Regions from separate parts of the Homo sapiens genome. Here regions 1, 2, 3, 5, 6 and 7 are each linked to region 4. The links come from fine-mapping of genetic effects on gene expression. A gene starts in region 4. Each other region holds a variant in brackets. All regions are shown on one strand. Distances are between the middles of the regions.

The links.
Region 1: its variant is fine-mapped to the expression of HIP1 in whole blood (INTERVAL, PIP above 0.99).
Region 2: its variant is fine-mapped to the expression of HIP1 in whole blood (INTERVAL, PIP 0.98).
Region 3: its variant is fine-mapped to the expression of HIP1 in whole blood (INTERVAL, PIP above 0.99).
Region 5: its variant is fine-mapped to the expression of HIP1 in whole blood (TOPMed, PIP above 0.99). The same link has a PIP of 0.9 or more in T cells, blood mononuclear cells, monocytes, neutrophils and tibial nerve.
Region 6: its variant is fine-mapped to the expression of HIP1 in whole blood (INTERVAL, PIP above 0.99).
Region 7: its variant is fine-mapped to the expression of HIP1 in whole blood (INTERVAL, PIP above 0.99).

What each region holds. Positions count from the first base shown.
Region 1 is chr7:75,621,371-75,625,435 of GRCh38, reverse strand. All of the region lies in intron 1 of HIP1 (huntingtin interacting protein 1), which reads left to right. Among named protein-coding and RNA genes, the nearest start is that of HIP1, 120 kb to the left of the region's middle. RefSeq lists enhancers at 342-1,295, 1,296-2,249. The variant A/G (reference allele first, on the strand shown) is at 2,040.
Region 2 is chr7:75,627,308-75,631,372 of GRCh38, reverse strand. All of the region lies in intron 1 of HIP1 (huntingtin interacting protein 1), which reads left to right. Among named protein-coding and RNA genes, the nearest start is that of HIP1, 110 kb to the left of the region's middle. RefSeq lists an enhancer at 1-229. The variant T/C (reference allele first, on the strand shown) is at 1,703.
Region 3 is chr7:75,486,565-75,490,629 of GRCh38, reverse strand. No RefSeq gene overlaps it. Among named protein-coding and RNA genes, the nearest start is that of POM121C, 2.3 kb to the right of the region's middle. The variant AGGAG/G (reference allele first, on the strand shown) is at 1,672.
Region 4 is chr7:75,736,813-75,740,877 of GRCh38, reverse strand. HIP1 (huntingtin interacting protein 1) reads left to right here and starts at 1,937. Exons shown (of 31, transcript NM_005338.7): 1 at 1,937-2,077. The coding sequence starts at 1,958. RefSeq lists a silencer at 1,160-2,149.
Region 5 is chr7:75,615,763-75,619,827 of GRCh38, reverse strand. The region is part of intron 1 of HIP1 (huntingtin interacting protein 1); the gene reads left to right. Among named protein-coding and RNA genes, the nearest start is that of HIP1, 120 kb to the left of the region's middle. RefSeq lists an enhancer at 2,006-2,507. The variant G/A (reference allele first, on the strand shown) is at 1,817.
Region 6 is chr7:75,580,350-75,584,414 of GRCh38, reverse strand. HIP1 (huntingtin interacting protein 1) reads left to right here. Exons shown (of 31, transcript NM_005338.7): 6 at 2,264-2,340; 7 at 3,117-3,178. Among named protein-coding and RNA genes, the nearest start is that of SPDYE5, 90 kb to the right of the region's middle. The variant C/T (reference allele first, on the strand shown) is at 2,187.
Region 7 is chr7:75,605,364-75,609,419 of GRCh38, reverse strand. The region is part of intron 1 of HIP1 (huntingtin interacting protein 1); the gene reads left to right. Among named protein-coding and RNA genes, the nearest start is that of SPDYE5, 120 kb to the right of the region's middle. RefSeq lists a silencer at 862-1,062. The variant TA/A (reference allele first, on the strand shown) is at 1,890.

The DNA of each region.
Region 1 (4,065 bases), 120 kb after region 4:
CCCAGGCCTCCATACAGTCCATACCCACCAATCTCTCTCCTCTCACAAGGTGGACACAATGCCATCACTTTCTCCCCATCTAGACCTCACTCTGAAACCAGGACTAAGTCTTAGTGATCTGTGAGTTGACTTAATGCAACACTTGACCGGGTGCTCAATACACCTACCCAGGAGTTTGAGACCAGCCTGAGCAACAGAGTGAGACCCCATCTCTATAAAAACTTAAACAATGGTGGCTTATATTTATAATCCCAGCACTTTGGGAGGCCAAGGTGGGTGGATCACCTGAGGTCAGGAGTTCGAGACCAGCCTGGCCAACATAATGAAACCCCATCTCTACTAATTGTAAAAATACAAAAATTAGCTGGCCGTGGTGGCAGGTGCCAGTAATTCCCAGCTACTCAGGAGGCAGGCTGAGGCACTGCAGTGAGCCAAGATCACACCACTGCACTCCAGCCTGGGCGACAGAGCAAGACATCTCAAAAAAAAAAAAAAAAAATTAAACAAAAATACACCTATGTACAGACACAGAGGGATGAATATAGATTTGATGGATGAATTCAATGAATGAATAAAATCATAACTATCTGAATGAATGATGGAACTTAAATAAATGGAGATGGTTTTGGCAGGGTAGTTAATCTTGGTTAGAGAGGTGGCATGAAGAGAAGGCATGAGGGTCAAATTAGACAGGACGTATTTGGGAAAGGGAAGGACAGGAATGAATTCTAAGACTGGAAAGGCAAGTGGGGGCCGGATCTCCAGGCCTTGAGTGCCAGGCCAGGGAGTGGAGCAGTTTCCTCGTAAGCCCTGGATGTTTCTGACATGATTGGAGCTGTGCTTTAGAAAGGGGGCTTCCAGTGACGTTGTGGCCACCAGGAGACCAGTAGGCTGTCAGGCCTGGAGGCTTCGGTGGGGCTTACCCTGCCTGGGGCCTGTTGGATGACTCCCCCACGGCCAACACCCCTATACTTCTGAATCTCATAGCTCTTTTTCCCCCCACTCCCCTAAGGAAGGGCTCTTCTTCACCCCAAAGACAGAAGAAGTAGAAGGGAGAGTTTCTGGCAGCTTTGCTTTCTGAGGAAGTCACGTCACAGCCGTGCAGCCGATGATGAAATCCACCTCCGGAATTAGCAACAACCTCTCTTTCCACTTTAGAAAACTGATTAGCAAATCCTCCCCAGCTTGTTCTCACTCCCTGGGTCCAGAGCAGGGAGTATCCATCAGCGCCTCTGCCTGCCTGATTCCGTGGCCTCCAGAGTGTAACCACAGCCTCACCGCTCACTCCATCTCTTTTCTTTGGTTCTGACCTGAGATCAGCGAGGTCTGTGCTTTGGAGGTGTGCGTGTGTTTCTTTTACAAGGTCCAGCTCTGTCTCCCAGGCCGGAGTGCAGTGGCACGATCATAGCTCACTGCAGCGTTGACCTTCAGAGCTCGAGTGATCCTCCTGCCCTCAAGCGATCCTCCTGCCTCAGCCTCCTATGTAGCTATGACTATAGGCATGAGCCACCACACCCTAATTTTCTGATGTTTTGTAGACATAGGGTCTCACTACTCCCCAGGCTGGTCTGAAACTCCTAGGCTGAAGCAGTCCTCCCGCCTCGGCCTCCCAAAGTGCTGGGATTACAAGCGTGAGCCACTGTGCCCAGCCTCAAACACTTTACAAGCCAGAAAGGCAATGAGGAGGAGGAGAAGAGTTGGTTTGAGGACAAGGGAGAGGCTCTGGGGAGAACTGGGCTGGAGAAGAGGAGGCGGAGGCTGGCTTAGTTCCTTTCTCCAAGTGCCACTTGCCTGGTCCTTGAGTGCAGCTCCAGGCATCCTGTGCATTCCTCAAATCCTGAGCTCTCAGCCCTGACCTCGCTTCCTGTTTCACTGTGAAGAGAGACGATCTGTGAAAACTGGCACTGCCCTCACCCACATGTCTGCCTCCGTCTGTGTCTGTACTGTGGGATCTGGCCCAGCCTGCCCTCCTGCTGGGCACCAGGCCCCATTCCCATCCCTGCCACTCTCCCGTCCTCTCCTCATGCGCATGCAAATGC[A/G]TTATTATGTCTCCCACTGGAAACAAGAAAACCTTGAGCCCACCTCCTCCCAGCGGCTGCCCTCTCTCTCTGTCCCTCTTCACAGCAGAAACCCTGTAGAGCACTCATTGCCTCCAGCTCCCAGCCTCCCCTTTCTCTCCTCGACCTACCATCAGAGGGGGAGAGCCTTTTTTTTTTTTTTTTTTTGCTTTTTTTTTTTGAGATGGAGTCCCGCTCTGTTGCCCAGGCTGGAGTGCAGAGGCACAATCTCAGCTCATTGCAACTTCCGTCTCCCAGGTTCCAGCGATTCTCCTGCCTCAGCCTCCCGAGTAGCTGGGATTACAGGCACGCACCACCACGCCTGGCTAAATTTTTTATTTTTATTAGAGACAGGCTTTCACCATGTTGGTCAGGCTGGTCTCAAACTCCTGACCTCAGGTGATCTGCCCGCCTTAGCTTCCCAAAGTGCTAGGATTACAGGCGTGAGCCACCACACCCAGCCAATTTCCTTTAAAAAATATATAGATAGATAGATAGATAGATAGATAGATAGATAGATAGATAGATAATTATTTATTTGACAATCTTGCTCTGTTGCCCAGGCTGGAGTGCAGTAACGCAGTCATAGCTCACTACAGCCTCCAACTCCTGGGCTCAAAGTGTCCTCTTGCCTCAGCCTCCCAAAGCATTGGGATTACAGGCACCAGCCACCATGCCCGGTCAAAATGCATTTCTTCATATGGCTTCCAGGGTGCCACAGTCTCCTGGCTTCCCCCAACCTCACAGGCTGTTTCTTTTCTATCTCCATCACTGATTCCCTCCTATCCTTATTTATTTATTTAGAGACCAGGTTTTAAGACTTGCAATGTTTGTATTTTTGGTAGAGACGGGGTTTCACTGTGTTGCCCAGGCTGGTCTCGAACTCCTGGGCTCAAGCAATCCTCCTTCCTTGGACTCCCAAAGTGCTGGGATTACAGGCATGAGCCACTGCCCGTACCTGGCCTCCTGTCTCTCCTGAACGTCGGGGTGTCCTCAGGCTGTCCCCAGACATCTCATCTGCACTCACTCCTTGGTGCTCTTATCCACTCTTACATTCCGTCCAAATTTATAAATGTAGCTCAGACCTGTTCTTTTTTTTTTTGAGACAGAGTCTCACTCTATCACCCAGGCTAGAGTGCAGTGGCATGATCTCAGCTCACTGCAGCCTTCACCTCCTGAGTTCAAGCAATTCTTCTGCCTTAGCCTCCCGAGTCAGCTGGGTGGCGTGCACCACCACATCTGGCTAATTTTTGTATTTTTAGTAGAGACAGGGTTTCATCATGTTGGCCAGGCTGGTCTCGAACTGGCCTCAAGAGGTCTGCCCACCTCGGCCTCCCAAAGTGCTGGGATTACAGGTGTGAGCCACCACACCTGGCCTAGCTTAGACCTTTTCTGAACTCCAGATGCGGCACAGCCCACTGCTCACCCACAGCTCCACTGGGATACCTGGTGGGTGTGTCATGTCTAACCTAGCCCCAAACCAACTCTCCCATGGGTCCCCCCAGCTTGTTAATGGCAGCTCAGTCCCTCTAGTTGCTCAGGCAAATCATCACGATGTTCTCCTTGACTCCTTCCTTCCTCACACCCCAGATCCAGAACATCAGATAATCCCATCAGCTCTAGCTTCAAAATAAATTCAGAGACCGACCACGTCTCGACACCTCCTCTGCCTCCACCATCAATTCTGTCCTGATTGAAGGCAGCAGAGTCTTCACTGTGGTCCCTGCAGCCACACTGGTCCCTGCAGTCTGTTCTCAGCACAGCAGCCAGAGGGATCCTATTGAATCAGATCGTTTTACCGCTTTGCTCAAAACCTTCCAGGGAGGCCAGGCACACTGGCTCACCTGTTAATCTCAGCAATTTAGGAGGCCAAGGCAGGAGGATCGCTTGGGGCCAGGAGTTCAAGACCAACCTGGGCAACATGGCAAGACCCCGTCTTTACCAAAAACCGCAAAAAACAAAACCACTTCCAGTGGCCCCAGTCTTATGTGGAACAAAGGTCAGTCCT
Region 2 (4,065 bases), 110 kb after region 4:
GTTAGTTGATCTCCTCATACTGTTTCCTCGCTTCTAAGGCAGGTTGGTGTCTGCAGACTTGCAGCACTGTCAAGATGCTCACTTAAAGTACTTGACACAAGCCAGGCATGGTGGCTTATGCCTGTAATCCCAGTGCTTTGGGAGGCTAAGGCGGGAGGATCACTTGAGCCCAGGAGTTCAAGACCAGCCTGGGAAAAATAGCAAGATCCTATCTCTACTAAAAAAAAAAAAATTTAAAAAACAAATTATCTGGGTTTGGTCGCATGAGCCTGTGGTCTCAGCTACTAGGGATCCTCCCAGCTGAGGCAGGTGGATCACTTGAGCCCAAGAGTTCAAGGCTGCAGTGAGATGTGATTGCACCACTGCACTCCAGCCTGGGTGACAGAGCAGGACCCTGTCTAAAAAAATAAGATAAAATACAAAATACAGTACTTGGCACATAGGAGGGGCTTAGTAAACCATGGCTATCATTAGAAATATGTTTGCTCTTTCATTTAGGCTACAAATAAAATCTGAAAACTTCAGGGAAAGAGGGGAGCATTGCTTCTTGCAGAATGATCACTGCTGGGTGAGCTCAGTCTGCCGGGGCAATCAGACCTGTTAGTAGTTGCAATACATGTGGTGCAATGCACAAAGGATGGGGCATGTGTCAGCCTGGAGAAGGTGGGGTTAACCAGCCGGCAACTTAAGGAAGGGTATCATTAAGAAAACTGGGGACAGAGGGGAAGAAGATCCCCTGGAAGGAGGAAAATAAGGGTATTTCAGGCACGCTAAAAGGGTAAGGTCATGAAACCACAGGATTTGTTCAGAAACTACCTCTGGTCGATGCTTGAAAAGTAGGCACACTCCCTATCTCTGTGGGCTAACAAAGTTTCCAGGATACAGAACACAAATCTTTTTTTTTTTTTTTTTTTGAGGTGGATCTCGGTCTATCCTCCATGCTGGAGTGCAGTGGTGTAGTCACAGCTCACTGCAGCCTCAAACCTCTCAGGCTCAAGTGATTCTCCCACCTCAGCCTCCCGAGTAGTTGGGACTACAGGTGCACACCACCATACCTGGCTGATTTTTGTATGTTTTGTAGAGACGGAGTTTCACCTTGTTGCCTAGGCTTGTCTTGAATCCCTGAGCTCAAGAGATATGCCCGCCTTGGTCTCCCAAAGTGCTGAGATTATAGGCATGAGCCACTGTGCTGGCTTTTTTTCCTTTTCAGAGAGAAGGTCTCACTCTATCCCTGAGGCTGGAATGCAGTGGTGCAATTCCAGTTCCAGTTCACTGCAGCCTCAACCTCCCAGGCTCAGGTGATCCTCCCACCTCAGCCTCCCAAGTAGCTGGGACTACAGGTGCATGCCACCATGCCCAGCAATTTTTAACTTTTTTGCAGAGACAGGATTTTGCTATGTTTCCCTGGCTGGTTTTGAACTGCTGGCCTCAAGCAATACTCCTGCCTCGGCCTCCCAACTTGGCCTCCCAAAGCTGAATCTTTTTACACCTCAGTGATACCTGGAAGAGCTGTGCTTTAAGAAGGGGAGCAGGCCGGGCGCAGTGGCTCACACCTATAATTCCAGCAATTTGGGAGGCCGAGGCGGGAGGATCACCTGAGGTCGGGAGTTTGAGACCATCCTGACCAACATGGAGAAAACCCGTCTCTACTAAAAATACAAAATTAGCTGGGCGTGGTGGCTCACGCCTGTAATCCCAGCTA[T/C]TCAGGAGGCTGAGGCACGAGAATCGCCTGAACCTGGGAGGCGGAGGTTGCAGTGAGCCAAGATTGCAGCACTGCACTGCAGCCTGGGCGACAGAGCAAGACTCCATCTCAAAAAAAAAAAAAAGAAAAGCGGGGGAGCCGCAATTGAAGGAAATACAGGATGCACAATGGGTGCTGAATGCATGAATGATTAAAAGACAAAAGAAGACATTCCAGTTGAGAGAGAGGTGCTGCACACAGGCTGAACATACAACCCTGGGGAATGAATGTTGAGTAGGTTTGTTAGGAGCGGGGCCAGAGGAATGGAGAGGAGGAGTGGGCACAGGTGTGAGGGCCTGTGTTAAAAATAACCAGCAAGTCTCTAGTAGAGCCAGTAAGCGGGGCTGCCTCCACTTGACAATCAGACGTGGATATGCTATTCTGGCCAACGGGTTTACGCTGCCTACTGCTACCCGGGCCTGGAGATGGCTCTCACTGGTACCAGGATAAGTGTGGGAGTTGCAAACCGTGGGTTGGGCAAAGTTTTTTTGAAATGAACATTTCATTAACTTTCTATCTTAACCTCTCTTTGGAGGACTCAGTTCAGCCTCGTATTCTGGGACCTAAAATAACTTTTTCTTGCTGGATTTTTCTCAGGCTAGGAAGAAGTCTTACAAAATCACTGCCTCCCTACTCCCCCTAGCTCAAGATCATGTCACCAGCCCCAGTGCTGGGTAGGGATGTTTCTAATGGTTACAACCAGGGTCCTGGCTATTGTCTTTTTTGCCCTGTATATGTGAAGATTGTCCCCTGAGTCAGCAGACACTGAGGACCCACCCAGACCTCATGCCAGGTGTAGATAATGTAAGAGAGAAAGTGATCCTTTGATGGCTTCTTCCTTAAAAGAGGTACAGGCCGCATGCAGTGGCTCATACCTGCAATCCCGGCCCTTTGGGAGGCCAAGGCAGGTGGATCACTTGAGGTCAGGAATTTGAAACCAGCTCAGCCAACATGGTGAAACCCCGTCTCTACTAAAAATACAAAAATTAGCCGGGTGCGGCAGCACGTGCCTGTAATCCCAGCTACTTGGAAGGCTGAGGCACGAGAATCACTTGAACCCGGGAGGCAGAGGTTGGAGTGAGCCGAGATTGTGCCACTACAGTCTGGCCTGGGTGACAGAGCAAGACTCTGTCTCAAAAAAAAAAAAAAAAAAAAAGAGGTACAGGAGATAAAATTATAATATTAGATTAATGTTAATAATCACAATAGTGTGATTGGTACAATATGAGAGATTTAAGGAAAGTTCTATAGACATTCAGAGGCAAGATGACTAATTCTGCCAAATGGTACAGGAAGTGGGGTGGGGAAGGTGACATTTCATTTATTCATTTATTCAGAAAAGATTTATAGAGTGTCTTCCATATGCCAGGTGCTGTTCCAAGCACTTGGGATACTTCACTGAACCAAACAAAGATTCCTGCCTTGTGGAGCTGAGCTCCTGCAGGGACTGAGGGGATGAGTCATAGATAATAGCAATAAATGTAAATGAGAAAATTTTGTAGGCTGTTGGAAGGTGGTAAATGATCCAGGAAATGGGGTTAGATGCAGAAATGGCTGCACTGTTCTAAATATGCTTGGATAAGAATTGTGAAAGAGGAGTGAGCACATTCATTCCTAGCAGGGGATTTTCCTTGGCTGCCAGGGAACTCTGGAACCCCTGTTCATGGTGTGTACTTGGCTTACAGTCTGGCTGAAATCCTGGACTCCAGATTTAGCTCATGGCTCATTGCTGAGAGTTGTCTGAGTCTAAACCTCAGGGCCCTTTCCCTGTGCCCAGCTCCCCTTGACCATCATCCTGAGGTCTACTCAACTGTGGATCCAGCCGTCAGCCAGAGGGTCTACAGAGCACTGAACACTCATCCACTTCTGCCAGATTTTCTAGTAGTTGGAGGGAAGATGCTGCCTCTTATATCCAACAAATCTCCAGTAAGGGAGGCAAGGTCAAATGGGCAGTTCTCTGGCCATGGCCCTGGGTGTGGACTTGATGCTACCCACAATAAACAAGGCCCTCTCAGCCCTACCCAAGTAACATCAACTGGAACAAGGCTGGAGGTGACAGAGCACCGTGTCTCATGCAATTCTCAGAAAAGTGTGATTCCTATTTTCATGTTCAAGCTGGAGAAACTGAGGCTCAGAGAAGTCAAATCTCAAAGGGCCCCTCACTTTGATCTAGGAACAGTATTTCAGAGTGGTCAAGGCCTTGGGTCCTGGGGTTCAAAATCTGTCTCTACCACTTACCTGGGCAGGTTACTGGGTTCTTTATTCTATAGAGATTTAAGGAAACTCCTATAGAAACTAAGTAGGAATGATTGATTCTGCCAAGT
Region 3 (4,065 bases), 250 kb after region 4:
GCCTCCGCCTCCAGAGTAGCTGGGACAATAGGCACACACCACCACACCCAGCTAATTTTCGTATTTGTGGTAGAGATGGGGTTTCGCCATGTTGCCCAGGCTGGTCTCGAACTCCTGGCCTCAAATCCACCTGCCTTGGCCTCCCAAAGTGCTGGGACTACAGATGTGGGCCACCGTGCCCAGCCCTCACTGTATGGATTTTCTAAAAAAAAAAAAAAAAAGATTACATTTGTCTTACTTGCCAAAAGGGAAATTAACCTTATCTCCTCTCCTTTTTAAAGAGTATTTCCTTGATAAACCTTGTAATATAAATAACTTCTTTTGTGCCTTTGATATGTACCTAAATCTTTTAAAAAGGTAAATGAACTTCTTGCCGACATTACAACCCAGGAATTTTTTTTTTTTTTTTTTTTTGGAGACAGAATCTCGCTGTCACCCAGGCTGGAGTGCAGGGGTATAATCTCGGCTCACTGCAACCTCCACTTCCCGGGTTCAAGCAATTCTCCCATCTCAACCTCCTGAGTAGCTGAGACTACAGGCGTCTGCCACCACGCCTGGCTAATTTTTGTATTTTTAGTAGAGACAGGGTTTCACCTTGTTGGTCTGGCTGGTCTTGAACTCCTGACCTCAGGTGATCCACCAGCCACGGCCTCCCAATGTGTGGGATTATGGGCGTGAGCCACCGTGCCTGGTCACAATCCAGGAATTTTTTTCTTAAGAGCCTAAGAGTCTTGTCTTTGAAATGTAAACCTGGAGGAAAATAGTGTCCCTATCTTCCTGTTGCCTAGGGAGTTTAGCCTAGGCAACTTGAGCTGTTACTACCTGCTTGTCAAGGAGATGTGAGAAGTTTTATTTTTTCATTGAATACAGGTAATTAACTAGCATGGATGGCCACGTTGATTTCCAGGTGAATTTAGGATGAGTGTTTAAGAATGTATAGCAGGCCAGGCGCGGTGGCTCACACCTGTAATCCCAGCACTCTGGGGGAGGCCGAGACGGGCGGATCACTTGAAGCCACACAGAAATCGAAAGAAGGAGTTTGAGTCCAGCCTGGCCAGTATGGCGAAACTCTGTCTCTACTAAAATACAAATATTAGCTGGGCATGATGGCACATGTCTGTAATTCCAGCTACTTGGGAGGCTTAGGCACGAGAATCACTTGAACCCAGGAGGTGGAGGTTACAGTGAGCCAAGAAGATCACACCACTACACTCCAGCCTGGATGACAGAATGAGACCCTGTCTCAAAAAAAACAAAACAAAAAAAACTGCATAGCAAGTCCTTTTGCATGAGGATGAGTTACTATTTATCTTGAGAGCGTGTATGCAATGGATTGTATCTGCCAGGCTATATAAAAAGGACGCTTTGGCCGGGCGCCATAGCTCACGCCTATAATCCCAGCACTTTGGGAGGCCTAGGCGGGCGAATTACGAGGTCAGGATTTCGAGACCATCCTAGCTAACATAACGAAACCCCATCTCTACTAAAAATACAAAAAATTAGCCAGGTGTGGTGGCTCGCGCCTGTAGTCTCAGTTACTTGGGAGGCTGAGGCAGGAGAATCCCTTAAACTGGGGAGGCAGAGGTTGCAGTGAGTCGAGATCGCACCACTGCACTCCAGCCTGGGCGACAGAACAAGATTTTGTCTCAAAAAAAAAAAAAAAAAAAAAAA[AGGAG/G]GGTTTATTTCTCTTTGCATCTCATTAATGGATCACCTGTGATGGGCATCACAGTCTGGTTTAATGCTTATTCAATAATAAAATTGTTTTCTTTATTTTCTGAATTTGTGGAGAGAATATTCTAGGTTAACAGAATAATCTATTTATTTACTTATTTATCTTGAGATGGAGTCTTGCTCTGTCTCCCAGGCTGGAGTGCAGTGGCCTGATCTCGGCTCACTGCAATCTCTGCCTCCCAGGTTCAAGTGATTCCCCTGCCTCAGCCTCCCAAGTATCTGGGACTACAGGCACGCACCACCGCACCCGGCTAATTTTTTGTGTTTTAGTAGAGACGGGGTTTCACCATGTTGGCCAGGATGGTCTTGATTTCCTGACCTCATGATCCGCCGGCCTCGGCCTCCCAAAGTGCTGGGATTACAGGCGTGAGCCACTGCACCTGGCTTCAGAAGAATTTATTTTTAGTCTTTTCCTTACCAGTTTTTATGAAACAACTGGGCAAGAACACTGTTAGATTTCACCAAAAAATTGTGATGAATCATTGTCTTTATGATCCCATTTTTGAAAATTGACATTTTAATTGTAAACCAAAAATAAAATTCTAAGCCCCCACAACTGACTCAGTGGACTCCCCTGTTGGCCAACAGGATCCAAAATAAACATGGAAAACTAATTTAGGTCATGATGGGAAGGAGGGGGTTGGATATGCCTTGTCATAATTCTCCTCCCGTCAGAGTTTAGGCACAGCTGACCAACATTATGATCTCTATTAGAATAGACATCATAGGACTGACAAAACAGGCTCTTTTTATCAGTAAGATACCCATCTCCAACCAGACTCTGATATAGCATCACATGACAGATAGCAGTCCCTGAAGTAAATCACAGTATTTTACCCCATAACATATTTTCTTTGACAAACTTTAAAATAGTCCTGCAAAGCCATCTCTTTGGGGGAAATTTGCATTCTGTAGAGAATCTCTTTGCCTTACAGAAAAGACTCCAGGTCTTTTCTGGAGAGTCTGACACCTTTTAAGATCCAATAAGAGATATTTATCATCTATTCTCTCTGAAGCCTGTTCTGAGGCTTCACCTACATAACAAGAACCTTGGTTTCCACAATCCCCCTTATCTTAACTCAAACTTTTCCTTCTTTTTTTTCCCTCCCTCTTTTTCCTTCCTTCCTCTCTCTCTTTTTCTCTCTCTCTCTTTCTTTTCTTCTCTGTTGCCCAAGCTGGAATGCAGTGGTGCCATCATGGCTCACTGTAGCCTCAACTTCCCAGGCTCAAGCGATCCTCCCATCTCAGCCTCCTGAGTAGCTGAGTCTACAGGCATGCACCACCACACCTGGATAATTATTTTTTTTTTTGTAGAAGTGGGGGTCTCGCTGTGTTGCCCAGGCTGTCCTTGAACTCCTGGCCTCAAGGGATCCTCCCAGCTCACCCTCCCAAAATGCTGGGAATACAGGCATGAGCCACCGCAATGGCCCATTTCTTTATGTAGTCTTCCAGCTGTTCAGCCAACACTTAACTCTGAACCAACTGCCAGTCTTTCAATCTACTAGTGACCTGAAAGCCTTTCCTGGCTGACCCAACATATACTTCCCATGTATTGATTTATGTCTTTGCCTGTAACTACTGTCTCCCTAAGATGCATAAAACCAAGCTGTAACCCAACTACTTTGGGCTCACGTTCTCAGGACCCCCTGAGGCTGTGTCACCAGCCATGGTCACTCAAATAGGAGGCCCAGAATAAAACTCTTTATAGACTTTGACTCTTTTTGGTCAACATAACCTAACCCTAAACATAATCCTCCTGGGGAAGGTAGGATCACAGGTATCTCTTCCTCGTTCAGTTTGTGTGTGTATGTCCTTATTTCTCTACGGTTTTTAGGCATTCGCTGTGTGATCTAGAAAAGCTATGGAGTCTCGCTTTGTCGCCAGGATGGAGTGCAGTGGCGTGATCTCGGCTCACTGCAACCTCCACCTCCCAGGTTCAAGTGATTCTCCTGCCTTAGCCTCCCGAGTAGCTGGGATTACAGGCACGCGCCACCACGCCCAGCTAATTTTTGTATTTTTAGTAGAGACAGGGTTTCATCATGTTGGCCAGGATGATCTCTATCTCTTGACCTCGCGATCTGCCCGCCTCGGCCTCCCAAAGTGCTGGGATTACAGGCTTGAGCCACTGCGCCCAGCTACAAATTCTATTTTCTTTTTGTTCCTTGGAAAGCATCGCTGGGCATTTATCCTGTCCCAGTATTTGAGTGAAACTTCTCAGCATTTCAGAGCAGTGACCATGATACACCCTTTCCTTTCCTTCTCCTTATGGGAAACTCCGTTCTAACCCAGAGGACTTGGGCTCCAGGACCCAGTAACGGAGCCCTGGATTTGACC
Region 4 (4,065 bases):
TTTTTACCAAACGCTCTTATTAAAAAAAATAAAAACAAAAACAAAAAAAAAACAGGCAGGGCAGGGTGGCTCACACCTGTAATCCCAGTGCTTTGGGAGGCTGAGGTGGTAGGATCATTTGAGCCCAGGAGATCATGACCAGCCTGGGCAATCCAGCAACATACCCCTCACTACAAAGAAATATGTATATATTTTTTTGAGACGGGGTCTCGCTCTGTCTCCCAGGCTGGAGTGCAGTGGCGCGATCTCTGCTCACTGCAACCTCTGCCTCCCTGGCTCAAGTAATCCTCCCGCCTTGTGAGTAGCTGGGACTACAGGCTTGCACCACCACGCCCAGCTAATTTTAAAATTTTTTGTACAGATGGAGTCTTGCTATGTTGCCCAGGCTGGTTTCAAAGTTCAGAGCTCAAACGATCCGCCTGCCTCAGCCTCCCAAAGCGCTGAGATTACAGGTGTAAGCCACCGCACCTGGCCAAATTTACAACACACACACACACACACACACACACACGAATCACCAAATTGTTAGGCCTAAAGGTGCCATTCATTACTCCGAGTTTCAAATAACTTTTAAAAAATACATCTATGCCGGGTGCTGTAGCTCATGTCTGTAATCACAGTACTTTGGGAGGCCAAGGTGGGAGGCTTGCTTGAGGCCACGAGTTCGAGACCAGTCTGGGCAACATAGAAAGACTCCATCTCTGCAAAAAAGATAGCCAGGCTTGGTGGCGTGCATCTGTAGTCCCAGCTACTCGAGAGGCCGAGGCAGGAAAATCGCTAGGACCCAGGAGCTCAAGGTCCCAGTGTGTTACGATCTGCACTCCAGCCTGGGCGACAGAGGGAGACTGACTCCAAATGAAACCAAAAAAAAAAAAAAAAACAAACAAAAACAAAAACAAAAACACACCTAAATTGGAGTTTAACGGAAAACTTTTAACTTTCTCCAGCACTCCTGCTAAGCATCACACTTCTCTCTGCTTGCTGGTACCCTGGCTGACGTCTGAGCAGGATGGGACGCGCGGCTCAGAGCCTAAGATAAACCGAAAGTGTCTACAGGGCTTTCTACCAACAAATAAGCTCTGACGGGTTCCTTTGATGAGGTTTGGGAGGCAGGTCCCGGGAGGTGCCCGCGGACTCAGCCCCGAACTCCGGGACCTGGGCTCTGCGATCCTTGCAGAGGGCATGGGCAGGGGCAGAATGGAGAAGTGCAGGACGGGGAAGCCTGGGAGCTGGGTGGGGGCGGCCACCCATTGAGCCGGATCCGGCCAGGCGCCCACGCTGCGCCCCGCCCGCGGGGCTGCGCTTTCCCGGGCTGCGGCCGCAGGGCTGGTCAGTCCGGCGCTCCCGGGTCCCAGGCCCGGAAGGAGCTAACGGGCTATTCGCAGGCGGGCTGGGATTCCCCCGGGGGAGGCCCCACTGCCCGGCCCGCGTCATCCCCGCCCATCTCCACGGGCCGTCGCGGGATAGCCCCCTGCAGGAGCGGGCAGGGTAGTGGGCGGCGCTTGGCGGAGGGCAGCACGCTCGGGGCGCGCGGGGACTGCGGCCGAGGGGAGGAGAGGGCGGTGCGCGGGCGGGGGCGGGGCGAGCGAGGGCATATCAGGGCAGCCCGCCCAGGCCACGCCCCATCCAGGCCTCGCCCCGTCCGCACCCCGCCCCGGCCCTGCCTAGAACGGCGGGACCACGGTGACTGACAGGACTCCAGACCAGTCACCACGCGCCTCGAGGCCCCGAGAGGCTAGTCGGGGCCGAGCCAGCGGAGGGGCTCCTGAAGGGGCGGGGGCGGGCGGGGAAGCCGTTCGGCGAGGGGCGGGGTCTCTGGAAGACTGGCAGAACTCACAGCCAATGGCAGGCGGGAGCCGTCCCGTTAGCGCCGGATCCCCGCGGGTAGGGCGGGGCGGGCGGCGCCGTGGGGATCCCGGGGCAGCCGAGGGCCCCTGACTCGGCTCCTCGCGGCGACATGGATCGGATGGCCAGCTCCATGAAGCAGGTGCCCAACCCACTGCCCAAGGTGCTGAGCCGGCGCGGGGTCGGCGCTGGGCTGGAGGCGGCGGAGCGCGAGAGCTTCGAGCGGACTCAGGTGAGGACGGGGGACCCCGGGGCATCCCTGGGGCACCCTGAGGGACGCGGTGTCCGGGAGGGGCTTTGAAGGGAGTAGGAGTCTTGCAGGCCCCAGTTGAAGACGGGGCGAGGGTGTAGTGAGCGGGGGCATTGACGTGCAGATCTGGGCGATCCCAGGAAGGTCGGGGACCCCAGGGTACCCCAGCTGGCCTGGGGAGAAGGGCAGAGGCGGGCTCGGAGGAGATGGCAGGATGCGTGGCCAAGAGGAGCCTGATCGGCTGGGTACCGGGCAGGAGTCCCAAGATGAGGTGAGAGGGGAAGGAACTGAAAAGGGGCGGAATGGAAGGGTTGCCCCTAAACAAGGGAAGCGCACGGGAGCCACTTGGAGGCTCAAGTGTGGGGGCGGAGAGTGGGGGCGCCGGGCTGGGAATGTGAAGGGTGAGGGGACCTCTCTTCCCCTCCGATCACTTCTTGGTTGCATTGACATCCCTTCCCACCCCCCACCCCTTAGCATCCCCCTTTCTCGATGCCTCTTGCTTGGCTCTGGCCAGCCCCAGCTGTCAGCTCTGAGGCCGGGCGGAAGGGGTCGGAGCAGGGAAAAGGAATGTAGGAAATGCAAAGTGTGGCCACTTTGTGGGAAAATTACTTTGGGGGCTAAAGTGGAGACCATGGTGCCCCTGAGCCCTGACTTGGGGTCTTGGTTTTATCCCCCAAGATGTGCCTGACAGCTAATAGGCAGACTGCCCTATTTGTCCTGCCTGGCCAGGGCTTGGGGCCAAAATTCCTCAGTGTCATCAACAAAAAGCCACAATCCATTTTTTTCTCCGAGTTTTTAATGCCTGGTGTATTGATTGGGCTGAATTAAGCTGACATGTTGATGGTGTTCATCAATTCATTTGTATGTAAAATCCATTTCAAAGAGTACAACGCTTCTTTTAATCCCAGTGCCAATGCTGGAGGGGCAGATTTCTTCTACACTCTTGTGCTCAGAGTGGAACCTTTGAAGATCCATTTGGGTCCCCCTCTCCAGAGGCTGGTCCCCTGATGTGTTATGCGAGGAATACTTCCCCCAAACACAGTTGGAGGGAAAGGGCTTTGGGATTTTAGTTAGAAAAGACAGTGAGAATCTGACTGAAGGTTCTGTATATGGAATCTTTCAAAGAATAGAGCTTTTGGCCGGGCGCGGTACCTCACACCTGTAATCCCAGCACTTTGGGAGGCCGAGGCGGGTGGATCACCTGACGTCAGGAGTTTGAGACCAGCCTGGCCAACATGGTGAAACCCTGTCTCTACTAAAAATACAAAAAATTAGCTGGGCGTGGTTGCAGACGCTTGTAATCCCAGCTACTTGGGAGGCTGAGGCCAGCAGAATTGCTTGAATCTGGGAGGTGAAGGTTGCAGTGAGCCGAGATGGCGCCACTGCACTCCAGCCTGGGCAACAAGAGCGAAACTCCGTCTCAAAATAATAATAATAAAAAAGAATAAAGCTTTTCACCCCCAGAGGACTTCATCCCCTCTTCTTATTCTGAAAACCTTTGGCCCCCCACCTGGGCAACATAGTGCGACCCTGTCTCTACAAAAAATAAAAAAATTAGGCTGGGTGCATTAGCTCACACCTGTAATCCCCGTACTTTGGGAGGCCAAGGTGGGAGGATCACTTGATCCCAGGAGTTCGATACCTGCCTAGACAACACACTGAGATCCCGCCTCTATTTTGAAAAAATTTTAAAATTATCCTCGTGTGGTGGCATACACCTATAGTCCCAGCTGTTTGAGAGGCTGAGGCATGAGGGTCACTTGAGCCAGGAGGCTGAGGCTGCAGTGGGCTATGATCGTGCCACTGCACTCCAGCCTGGGTGACAGAGTGAGACTCTATCTCTACAAAAAAGTGAAAAAAAGAAAGAAAACCGCGCGCAGGTGTGTCTGGATAGTGTGAAGCAGTGGGACCCTGTCTCTACAAAAAAAAAAAAGAAAAAGAAAAAAAGAAAGTGCCTCCATGCAGGTGTG
Region 5 (4,065 bases), 120 kb after region 4:
TTTTCTGAGCTTTATGTAACAGATGTGGTTTTGTATAAATCACACTTCTGTAAACTGAATCCTCTCTTAAATGTACTAACGGAGATTGCTATTTAAGGGTATCGAATGCCAATGTCTTCTGTGAAATGAATAATAATCTCCTAATTTGGCCTTAGTGGCAATTCACATTTTCCAGAAAAAAATTTACTTACATCAAGGTATACTTGTCTGAGCTGAGAAACTGACTTCATTCTTCACATTTCCACCATCTTTATTCTTTGCTCTCATTCTTCCTTTTTGTTACTGTTTTTCTTCTCTTTTTTTTTTTTTTTTGAGACAAAGTCTTGCTCTGTCGCCCAGGCTGGAGTGATCTCGGCTCACTGCAACCTCTGCCTTCTGGGTTTAAGCAATCCTCCTGCCTCAGACTCCCGAGTAGCTGGGATTACAGCAGGCACACGCCACCACACCTGGCTAATTTTTGTATTTTTAGTAGAGATGGGGTTTCACCATGTTGGCCAGGCTGGTCTCAAACTCTTGACCTCAAGTGATCCGCCCACCTGGGCTTCCCAAAGTGCTGGGATTACAGGCATGAGCCACTGTGCCCGGCCACTGTTTTTACTTTTAGCTGAATTTTTTCTTAGACTCTGACATACAATGTTCTTCTGTAACATCACCTGAATTAACAGTGCCATGGGCCCTTCCGAGCCCAAATGAGTCCAATTTGGGGGTGGAGCAAAGGAATCTAGGGGTGTGTGTACAAACTCGGGGTACAGGATTCTCAGATGATATCCCGGCCTAGCCAAGTCTGGGAACCACTGACCAAAGGCTTTCTTTCTACACACAGCGATTCCTGCAGAAATAGAACAAAAGGTGGGATGTCAAGGATGTTGGGTGGGAGGCCAAGGTGGGAGGCTCACTGGAGCCCAGGAGGTTGAGACCAGCCTGGGCAGCATAGTGAAACCCCATCTCTACAAAAAAACTTGGAAGAAAAAAAAAAGGATGTGCTCAAGGGAGAGGCATCAGGTTTTCTAGTGCTGGGATGTGGCTGGGGCTTGGCTCATTCACTTGACAGAAAGGTCACTTCTAGAAATTGGACACTGCAAGAGACCCAGAGCTGGATAAGGGATGGTTCCCGTGCTGGGGGATCTCCTGTAAGTCAGGCATCACCCACCTTGAGTCTTCAGATCATTGGAGATAAGTAGCAGTATATTAATAAAAGAGAAGAGACAAAACTAACCTCACTGTTAGAAAGCTGGGGAAACAGCTGGGTGCGGTGGCTCATGCCTGTAATCCCGGCACTTTGGGAGACTGAGGAGGGCAGGTCACCTGGGGTCAGGAGTTCAAGACCAGCCTGGCCAACATGGTGAAACCCCCATCTCTACTGAAAATACAAAAATTAGCCACGTGTGGTAGCTCACACCTGTAATCCCAGCACTTTGGGAGGCTGAGGCAGATGAAACACTTGAGGTCAGGAGTTTGAGACCAGCTTGACCAACATGGTGAAACCCTGTTTCTACTAAAAATATAAAATTAGCCAGAGTTGGTGGCACGTGCCTGTAATCCCAGCCACTCGGGAGGCTAAGGTGTGAGAATCGCTTGAACCCAGGAGGTGGAGGTAGGTAGCAGTGAGCCGAGATCACACTACTGCACTCCAGCCTGGGTGACAGTGAAACTGTGTCTCAAGAAAAAAAATGAAAGAAAGAAAGCTGGGGCAACGAGAGGGTGGTAGAGGGCATGAAGAGAGGAAGTTGGGCAATGCTGGTGGTTTGTGGGGAGGGCGCAGCCCAGGGTTTCCCACTCTTGCTGACAAGCTGCCTATCCGGAAGGCTTCCCCCGG[G/A]AGCTCTGGCCAGGGCCATTACGAAAGGCCACTCCAGTCTGGCTCTGTGAATAGTGAAAGATCAGGATATGTCTGGTGGATTTACCCAAGGCTGCGCTTTCTAGGGAGGGTGACTTGCCCAACCAGTGACTATGATGAATGGGGAATGAGCCCTCTGGGTGCAATACCTGCCAGCGTGACTTTGCAGTTTGGGGTGCTAGGGAAGCAGAACCAAGGTTTCCTCCATGACGACAGGAGCAGCAGCCTTACAAGGGAGGAGCCCCTTTCGAAGCCACAGCTCCCTGTGGGTGAGAGGAGGGCATATGGGCCCGCTTCTCCTTTTCCCCAAGGCCTGGTGTCCGAGTCTCTTACCCTGTGCCCTACATTCCAGGCCCCTTTGAAAGCCTAAGTGGGCACCCCGAAGGTCATCACAGATGTTCTCTTATGGAGGGAGGCAGCTGGCATACGGGGAAAAGGAGACCAAGAAACCAAGACTCACGCAAGGAACCAGGCTGAGGCTGGGCGCGGTGGGTCACGCCTGTAATCCCAGCACTTTGGGAGGCCGCTGCAGGAGGATGGCTTGAGGCCAGGAGTTCGAGACCAGCCTGGGCAACACAGGGAGATCCTCACCTCTACAAATAATAAAAAATTAGTGGCTGGGTGCGGTGGCTCACGCTTGTAATCCCAGCACTTTGGGAAGCCGAGGCAGGAGGATCACCTGAGGTCAGGAGTTCAAGACCAGCCTGGTCAACATGGTGAAACCCCGTCTCTACTAAAAACTACAAAACAAATTAGCCGGGAGTGATGGTGGGTGCCTGTAATCGCAGCGACTTGGCAGGCTGAGACAAGGGAATCGCTTGAGCCGGGGAGGCGGAGGTTGCAGTGAGCTGAGATCACGCCATTGCACTCCAGCCAGGTGACAGAGCAAAACTCCATCTCAAAAAAAAAAAAAAAAAAAATTAGCTGGGTGTGGTGGCATGCACCTGTGCTCCCAACTATTTTGGGAGGCTGAGGTGGGAGGATTGCTTGAGCCCAGGAGGTCGAGGCTGCAATGAGCCATGATTGCACCACTGCACTCCAACCTGGGCAACAGAGCAAGACCTTGTCCAAACAAAAAAAAATAGTCATCTAAATGTAGTTACTGTTGTTCCCAGCATCAGTTAGATCAATCACTGTGCCTGACATATACCTCCCTGGTAAACATGAGGAGGAGGACACAGGCTCAGGCACCAGCATGCCTTACCCCAAAGTGATGGCCAGTAATCAGCCTCTGTATGTGTGGACATCCACCCTCATAGGCTGCCCTGCCTAGTCCAGGGGCCAGCAAACATTTTCTGCAAAGGGCCAGATGGTAAATGTTTTTGGCTTTGTGGCTTCCTGCTGCTACTATTTCTTCCTCCTCCTCGTCCTCCTCCTCTTCCTCCTCCTCCTCCTCCTCCTCCTCCTCCCCACCCTTAAAAAGCCAGGCATGGTGGCTAGCGCCGGTAATTCCAGCACTTTGGGAGGCTAAGGTGGGAGGATCGCTAGAAGCCAGGAGCTCAAGACCAGCCTGGGCAACAAAGTGAGACCCGGTCTCTACAAAAAAAAATTTTTTAATTAGCCTGGCGTGGTGGTGCGCACCTGTAGGCCCACCTACTTGGGAGGTGGAGGTGGGACGATTGCATGAACCCAGGAGTTCAAGGCTGTAGTGAGCTATGATCGTACCACTACACTGCAGCCTGGGCAACAGAGCAAGACTCTGTCCCTAAACAAGAACACAAAAACCAGTCCTAGCTCACAGGCCATGCACAAGCAGGCTGAGGCCAGGTTTGGCTGGTGGGCGGTGGTTTGGACCCCTAGCAGCCTGTCCTTTCTCATTCTTGTCTAGGACGATGTTACGAGATACTTTGTTTTTGTTTTTGTTTTCTTTTCTTTTCTTATCTTTTCTTTTTTTTTTTTTTTTTTTTTGAGACAGAGTCTTACTCTGTCGCCCAGGCTGGAGTGCAGTGGTGTGATCTCAGCTCACTGCAACCTCCACATCCCAGGTTCAAGCGATTCTCCTGCCTCAGCCTGCTGAGTAGCTGGGACTACAGGTGCGCACCATCACACCCAGCTAATTTTTGTATTTTTAGTAGAGACGAGGTTTCATCATATTGACCATGCTGGTCTCAAATTCCTGACCTCAGGTGATCCGCCTGCCTCAGCCTCCCAAAGTGCTGGGACTACAGGCATGAGCCACCGCGCCTGGCCATTTTTTGTTTGTTTTTGTTTTTGTTTTTTGAGACAGAGTC
Region 6 (4,065 bases), 160 kb after region 4:
AGTTTTTAGCAATTAGCGATACAAGAGTGGGGAAGGAGGCTGGGCAGAGTGGCTCACACCTGCAATCCCAGCATTTGGGGAGGCCAAGGCTTGAGGTGAGACCAGCCTGGGCAACACAGTGAGACCCTGTCTCTTAAAAAAAATTTTTTTTGGCCAGGCGCGGTGGCTCACGCTTGTAATCCCAGCACTCTGGGAGGCCGAGGCGGGTGGATCACCTGAGGTCAGGAGTTCAAGACCAGCCTGGGCAACATGGTGAAACCCCATCTCCACTAAAAATACAAAAAAATTAGCCGGGCATGGTGGTGCGTGCCTGTTAATCCCAGCTACTCAGGAGGCTGAGGCAGGAGAATCGCTTGAACCCAAGGGGCTGAGGTTGCAGTGAGCTGAGATCATGCCATTGCACTCCAGCCTGGGCAACAGAGTGAGACTCCGTCTCGAAAACAACAACAAAAATATCCCGCACACATTAAAGAAAAATTCATTCTCTGGCTGGGCGTGGTGGCTCACACCTGTAATCCCAGCACTTCGGGAGGCCAAGGCGGGCGGATCACCTGAGGTCAGGAGTTCAAGACCAGCCTGGCCAATGTGGCGAAACCCCATCTCTACTAAACACACACACACACACACACACACACACACACACACACACACACACACAAATTAGCCCGCATGGTGGTGTATGCCTGTAGTACCAGCTACTGAGGAGGCTGAGGTGGAGGATCACTTGAGCCCAGGAATTCGAGGCTGCAGTGAGTGATGATCATGCCACTGCACTCCAGCGTGGGCAACAGTGAGGCCATGTCTCTAAAAAATAAAAAAAGAGAGAGAAACAAGAGAGAGCTGGTTTCCCCCTCCTCTGCCATGTAAGCAACGTAATCAGGATGAAGCGCCTCACCAGGCACCGAATCTGTCAACACCCTGACTTTGAACTCCCTGGCCTCGAGAACTGAAAGACACTCTCTATGGGTTAAGCCACCCAGTGCATGGTATCTTGTTATAACTGCCCGAGCTGACTGAGACGGACGTTCAGGACAGAGAGCGTGAATGCATAGTGACACCAGCTGTGAGTCTTTCTCCAGGGACAGTCGGCAGCCGGCCCTAGGTGCAGAGCCGATGACAAGGACCCAGGCTCTCAGCAGGTCTTCCAAGCAGTGTGGTAGAAAGGCAGGCAGGGTGTGGGGAAGTGGAGCCAGGCCACCAGTCATGATGTCAAGACTGAGCCAGGAAGCAAAGGCAGGCAGAGAGATGGGGAGGAGAGGGAGCAGGAGGGGACTGGCCATCTCTGAGACAGAAGCGTGAGTAGTGGGTGGACTTGAGGGCAGGAGAGGACTGAAAGGGCAGAGGCCTGGGCGATGCAGCCAGAGAGGGAGATGCTGGTGTGGGGAGGTCTGGGCAGGGATGTTTTAGGTGATGGCAGAGTCTGGAGTGGGGATGGAGTAGAGGTGAAGGTGCTGAAATTGAGGTCAGAGGTTGTAATCTCAGCGTGTATGACTTGGGGCAAAGGAAAACTGTGTCCCAGGTGCCAGGTCAAGCCTCAGAGGCCTTGGCACCATGGAGCCCAGGAGCAAAGTCTGCAATGGGGATTTTTTTTTCTTTTTTTTGCGGTGGGGGAGACGGAGTCTCACTCTTGCCCAGGCTGGAGTGCAGTGGTGCGATCTCAGCTCACTGCAACCTCCGCCTCCCAGCGTCAAGCAATTCTGCCTCAACCTCCCAAGGAGCTGGGACTACAGGCGTGCACCACCACACCCGGCTAATTTTTGTATTTTTAGTTGAGACAGGGTTTTGCCATGTTGGCCAGCCTCGTCTCTAATTCCTGACCCCAAGTGATCCATCTGCCTTGGCCCCCAAAGTGCTGGGATTACAGGTGTGAGCCACCGCACCTGGCCTAGAGCCTAAAGTATCCACTTGTACATGTAGATGCCCCACGATGGAATGGCCACCCATCTCTGTGGCCTTTTCCCTTTGCCACAGGGACAAACCACACAGATGACAGGATCATGCTGGCTGTAGATACTCAGCAATGATTGATGATACCAGCGATTTTTCTTTTTTTCTTTTTTGTTTGTTTTGAGGTAGGGTCTCACTCTGTAACCAAGCTGGAGTGCAGTGGCCTTGAACTGTAAACTTGAACTCCCGGGCTCAAGCAATCCTCCCACCTCGGCCTCCCAAGTAGCTGGGACCACAGG[C/T]GTGTGCCACCACGCCCGGCTGAGAGAGGGCTCTTCATGTCTTCTGCCCTGACTCCCTTCCTCTGCCTCCCTTCCAGAATCCCAGGTTCCCAGGCAACCTGCAGATGAGTGACCGCCAGCTGGACGAGGCTGGAGAAAGTGACGTGAACAACTTGTAAGTGGCTCCTGCCCTGAGCCCAGGGAGGGAGAAAGCTTTTGTGAATGCTGACACTTCTCATAAGGGTCATGGAGGGCCTGATGGGGGGAGGCCGTGGCTGGGATGGGGACCAAAGCCCCTGGGTGACTTGGCCTTGGGGCTACTTATTTATTGGTGGTGCCTCATCCAGAACCCCTGCCTGGCTATTTCACACCCCAAAGCTTTCCTGTCTGTCTCGCTTTCTGCCCTCTGACTCCAACACTGGTACCTATCCTCTCCCTCTGTCACTGTCACTGTTTTTGTTTTTGTTTTTTGAGAGGCAGTCTTGCCCTGTTACCCAGGCTGGAGTGCAGTGACTTGATCTCGGCTTACTGCAGCCTCCACCTCCCAGGTTCAAGTGATTCTCCTGCCTCAGCCTCCCGAGTAGCTGGGATTACAGGCATGCGCCATCACACCCAGCTAATTTTTATATTTTTAGTAGAGATGGGGTTTCGCCGCGTTGGCCAGGCTGGTCTTGAACTCCTGACCTCAGGTGATCCGCCCACCTCGGCCTCCCAAAGTGCTGGGATTACAGGCGTGAGCCACCGCCCCCGACCTGTCGCTGTCACTGTTGACTTCACCAGGCTGCATGGCCATAATACCCACAAGGCTAAGACTTGGAGCTGGAGTTGTGTGTGTGTTTGCGCATGCACATGAGCATTGGAGACTGGAGTAGCGTAGAGCGTGGGGGAGGGGACAGGTAACAGACCGGCCTCAGGCTGTGGAGTGTAAGCTCTCTTTCCTCTTGGGTCCAGTTTCCAGTTAACAGTGGAGATGTTTGACTACCTGGAGTGTGAACTCAACCTCTTCCAAACAGGTGAGTCTCTTCCCTCCCGTCTAACCCAGGCTCTCATGGGAACTACCTAATTCCTAGTCCTCCTCTCCCTGCAAAGTGTGCAGCACAAGGGGTAGGAAAATGGAGACATTCACACCCCATCTCTGGTCTCTCCAACCCTCGTGCAGGGAGGGACTGAACCTCTTCAGTATTTTTCTTTTTAAGAGACAAGGTCTCGGCCGGGTGCAGTGGCTCGCACCTGTAATCCTAGCACTTTGGGAGGCTAAGGTGGGCCCATCACTTGAGGCCAGAAGTTCAAGACCAGCCTGGCCAACATGGTGAAACCCTGTCTCTACTAAAAATATAAAAATTAGCCGGGCATGGTGGCACATGCCTGTAATCCCAGTTACTTGGGAGGCTGAGGCAGGAGAATTGCTTGAACCCAGGAGGTCGAGGTTGCAGTGAGCCAAGATCATGCCATTGCACTCCAGCCTGAGTGATACAGCAAGACTTCATCTCAAAAGAAAAAAGAGAGAGAGAGAGAGAAGGTCTCACTCTGTCGCCCAGGCTGGATTGCAGTGGCATGTTACGGCTCACTGCAACCTCAAACTACTAGGCTCAAATGATCCTCCCACCTCAGCCTCCCAAGTAGCTGGGACTACAGGCACGCACCACCACATCTGGCTGATTTTTTATATTTTTTGCAGAGATAGGGGTCTCACTGTGTTGCCCAGGCTGTTCTTGAACTACCAGCCTCAAGGTGTCTTCCCAACTCAGCCTCCCAAAGTTCTGGGATTACAGGCGTGAGCTACCACACCTGGCCTCCTAGATATTTTCCAAGCGGGTGGTTTCACGTCTGAGCAGAAAGACCACACACTGCCCCTTCCTACTGGCCTCTCTCCTGAAGCGCAGGCCTCCAAAAGCCCAAA
Region 7 (4,056 bases), 130 kb after region 4:
TGGTCCTCGCAGGGAACTTCTGCCCTGGAAACCCCTCAGTATCTGACATTCCCTGGCCCCCTGGGGGACCTACAGGTTGCCTTAGAACCCAGAATGAGCCCCCAAGAAGCCTTGCCACAGACTCGGCAATGGGCCCCAAACCATAGAGTGGGCTCTGCCTCATGGGTACAGCCACTATGATGAAGTGTTGCTTGGGGAACTGGGGCACGATGATGACAGTGCCTGAGAGCTCTTGTGAGCCCCCCCAGAGCTGCAGGAGAAGGGTCTGGGACAGTCCTGGCAAGCTCAGGCAGAGCTTACAGGTGCCTTGTAGCCGCTGGTTTAGGAAGAAACTTCTTTCCACAAGCCAGTGCTTAGGCCAGGTCCTTGTCAGTTGCACTGGATTCATACTGGGAGGCGGTGACTCCCACGGTGTTCCCCACTTTCCTTAGCACACTGGAGAAGTAACTCATTCAGGAGAACAGAGGGTCATTTGTGTCATGTTCCTCCCCTGCTCAAGAGCCTTCTGTGGATCCCCAGTACCCATCAGATCACAGTTTTCCTCGACCTGATATCCAGAGCCCTCCGTCATCTGATCAGCCGTTTCAGAGTCTAAAAATGGGAAGAGACCTAGAAGTCATCTAATGTAATCTGAACCTGTCCATCTTTTTCACAATAACCCAGAGAGGTTGCCTCTCTTCTGCATGTGTGTTTCTAATAATGAGGAGTTCTCTTTCATGAGACAGCTTTAAGTTCATCCAGAAACTGCCTCTCTGGACTTCTGCCCATTGGTCTAGGTTCAAGCCTCTGGAGTTTTTCCTGCTTCCAGATGGTCACGCTTCAGAATACTGATATTTCTCTAAATTTTCTTCAGATCTTAAGTCCATTTCAATCCAGGTCACTCTTTTTTGGAAATGGTCCAGCTTGTTAGTTTCCTTCATAATGTATAAAGCCTGAAACTGAATAGTGTTTCACGCATGGCCTTATCTGTGTAGAGAACTGGAACCATACGTTCCCTCCTTTTAATGCATCCAGAGAGATCAGACTTGCATGTTCATCAACCGTATCAAAATCTTGCTATTATTAAGTTAGCAGCCAAATAAAACACCTTAATTCTTTTTTTTGTTTTCTTTTGAGACGGAGTTTCTCTCTGTCACCCAGGCTGGAGTGCAGTGGCGTGATCTCGGCTCACAGCGTTCTCCGCCTCCCGGGTTTAAGCAATTTTCTGCCTCAGCCTTCCGAGCAGCTGGGATTACAGGTGCCCACCACCACGCCCGGCTAATTTTTTGTGTGTTTTTAGTAGAGACGAGGTTTCACCATCTTGGCCAGGCCGAACTTGAACTCCTGACCTCGTGATCCACCTACCTCAGCCTCCCAAAGTGCTAGGATTACAGGCGTGAGCCATGTGCCCAGCCAAAACACCTTCATTCTTTTCACAAGTGCTGCTTTGAGTCACGGCTCCCTTGTGCCAGTGAGTTTAGGCCTAAGTATAGAAAATTTCCTTTGTACCTACTGGATTTCATCTTGTGAATTTTAATGCATTTTTCCAGTCTGTGGATTCTGATCGTGTCTCTGTGGTGTAGAGGGCCTTGTCTAGTGCCGAGGTTGTGATCCTGAGCCTGAGCTTGGTCACACTGCAAAGACTGAATCCCCGCCCTACACTTGCTGATGTTACGGGCCTGGGCAGTTTACTTAGCAGTTCTTTTTTTATTTTTATTTATTTATTTTAGAGATAGGGTGTCACTCTGGTCCCCAGGCTGGAGTGCAGTGGCGTGATCATGGCTCACAGCAGCTTCAAACTCCTGGGCTCAAGTGATCCTCCTGTGATCCTCCTATCTCAGCCTCCCAAGTACCTGGGACTACAGGCACGGCCACCGCACTTGACAAATTTTTTTTTTTTTTTTTTTTTT[TA/A]GGCTGGGCATGGTGGCTCATGTCTGTAATCCCAGCACTTTGAGAGGCCAAGATGGGCGGATCACCTGAGGTCAGGAATTCAAGACCAGCCTGACCAACATGGTGAAATCCCATCTCTACTAAAAATACAAAAATTAGCCGGGCTTGGTGGTGTGCACCTGCAATCCCAGCTACTGGGAAGCTGAGACAGGAGAATCGCTTGAACCCAGAAGGCAGAGGTTGCAGTGAGCTGAGATCACACCACTGCACTCCAGCCTGGGCAACAGAGCAAGACTCTGTCTCAAAAAAAAAAAAAACAAAACAAAAAACAACTCTTTTTTTTTTGTAGAGATGGTGCCTTACTGTGTTGCTCAGGCTGTTCTGAAACTCCTGGCCTCAAGTAATCCTCCCACCTAAGCCTCCCAAAGTACTGGGATTACAGGTGTGCACCACCACACCTGGCTATTTAAAAAAAAATTTTTTTTTAGAGATGGGGTCTCGCTCTATTGCCCAGGCTGGTCTCAAACTCCTGTTCTCAAGCAATCCTCCAGCCTCAACCTCCCAAAGTGCTGGGATTACAGACATGAGCCACCCCACCCAGGTTTACTTAGCCTTTCTAAGCCTAAGAGATCTCAGGTACCTTGGTTTCTTCATCTGCAGAATGGAGCTGATTAATACTATTAAGTGTCTACTGGTAGGTTGTAGAGTTGTAAGACTTTATATAAGATAATTCATACAAAGGGGCCTGGTCTAAGCACTCATTAGTGCCATCAGCTTGATAATTATCACCACCGTTACCGCTAGTTCACTTCCTCATTCTTTTAAAAATGGCTATTTCTTACCCAAGAGCCGCCTGGCCTCATTGTTCATTGTTCCTTCGGGTCCTTTTCTTACAGTGTCTCCCCAGCTTGTGGCCCTTGCTGCTATCCTCCCCTCATCTAGGTCCAGAGCCTCTGCATCATCTTTTTTTTTTTTGAGACGGAGTCTCACTCTGTCGCCCAGGCAGGAGTACAATGGCGGGATCTCGGCTCACTGCAACCTGCACCTCCCGTGTTCAAGCAATTCTGCCTCAGCCTCCCAAGTAGCTGGGATTATAGGCATGAGCCACCACACTCAGCTAATTTTTGTATTTTAGTAGAGATGGGGTTTCACCATGTTGGCTAGGCTGGTCTTGAACTCCTGGTCTCAGGTGATCTGCCCCCCTCGGCCTCCTAAAGTCTCTGCATCATCTTGGAGGCACCATGGATGCATCCTTCTGCTGTCTCCCTGTAACCCGGAGCTCCTATCTGCCAGTCCTACTGAAGCTCGTTTTACAGCTCACATTATATTGGGTCATTTCCATTCTCACATCTTTCATTTTGATTCCATTTTTCCTGTACTTTTATGCTATTAAATAGCTTCTGGCTGGGCATGGTGTCTCACACCTATAAGCCCAGCACTTTAGGAGGTTGAAGCAATAGGATTGCTTGAGGCCAGGAGTTCAAGACCAGCCTGGGCAACATAATGAGACCCCGTCTCTATTTAAAAAAACCAACTAGCCAGGCATAGTGGTATGTGCCTGTGGTCCCAGCTACTCAGGAAGCTGAGGTGGGAGGATTGCCTGAACCCAGGAGGTTGAGGCTATAGTAAGCTATGATTGCACCACTGCACTCCAGCCTGGGTGACAGAGCAAGACCCTGTCTCCAAAAAATAATAATAATTGATTAAATAAAAATACAGCCAGGCGCGGTAGCTCACGCCTCTAATCCCAACACTGGGAGGCCAAGGCAGGGGGATCACCTCAGGACAGGAGTTTGAGAACAGCCTGGCCAACATGGCAAAACCCTGTCTCTACTAAAAATACAAAAATTAGCCAGGCGTGGTAATGTGCAACTATTATAATCCCAGCTACTTCGGAGGCTGAGACAGGAGAATCACTCGAACCCAGGAGGTGGAGGTTGCAGTGAGCCAAGATTGCGCCATTGCACTTCAGCCTGGGCGACAGGGCAAGACTCCGTCTCAAAACAACAACAACAACAAAAATAGCTTCCTCCCTGAATTCTCACCTCCAGGCTCCATCCAGCTCTACCCCAGCTGCCGCCACTGCTGGCCCATTCCCCTCCACCTGCTGTCATCTCTTCTTGCCACTCAGAAGCCCACTGGCCTCCCACACGCAGCCTCACCTGCCTCCTGGCTTCTCCTCCATCC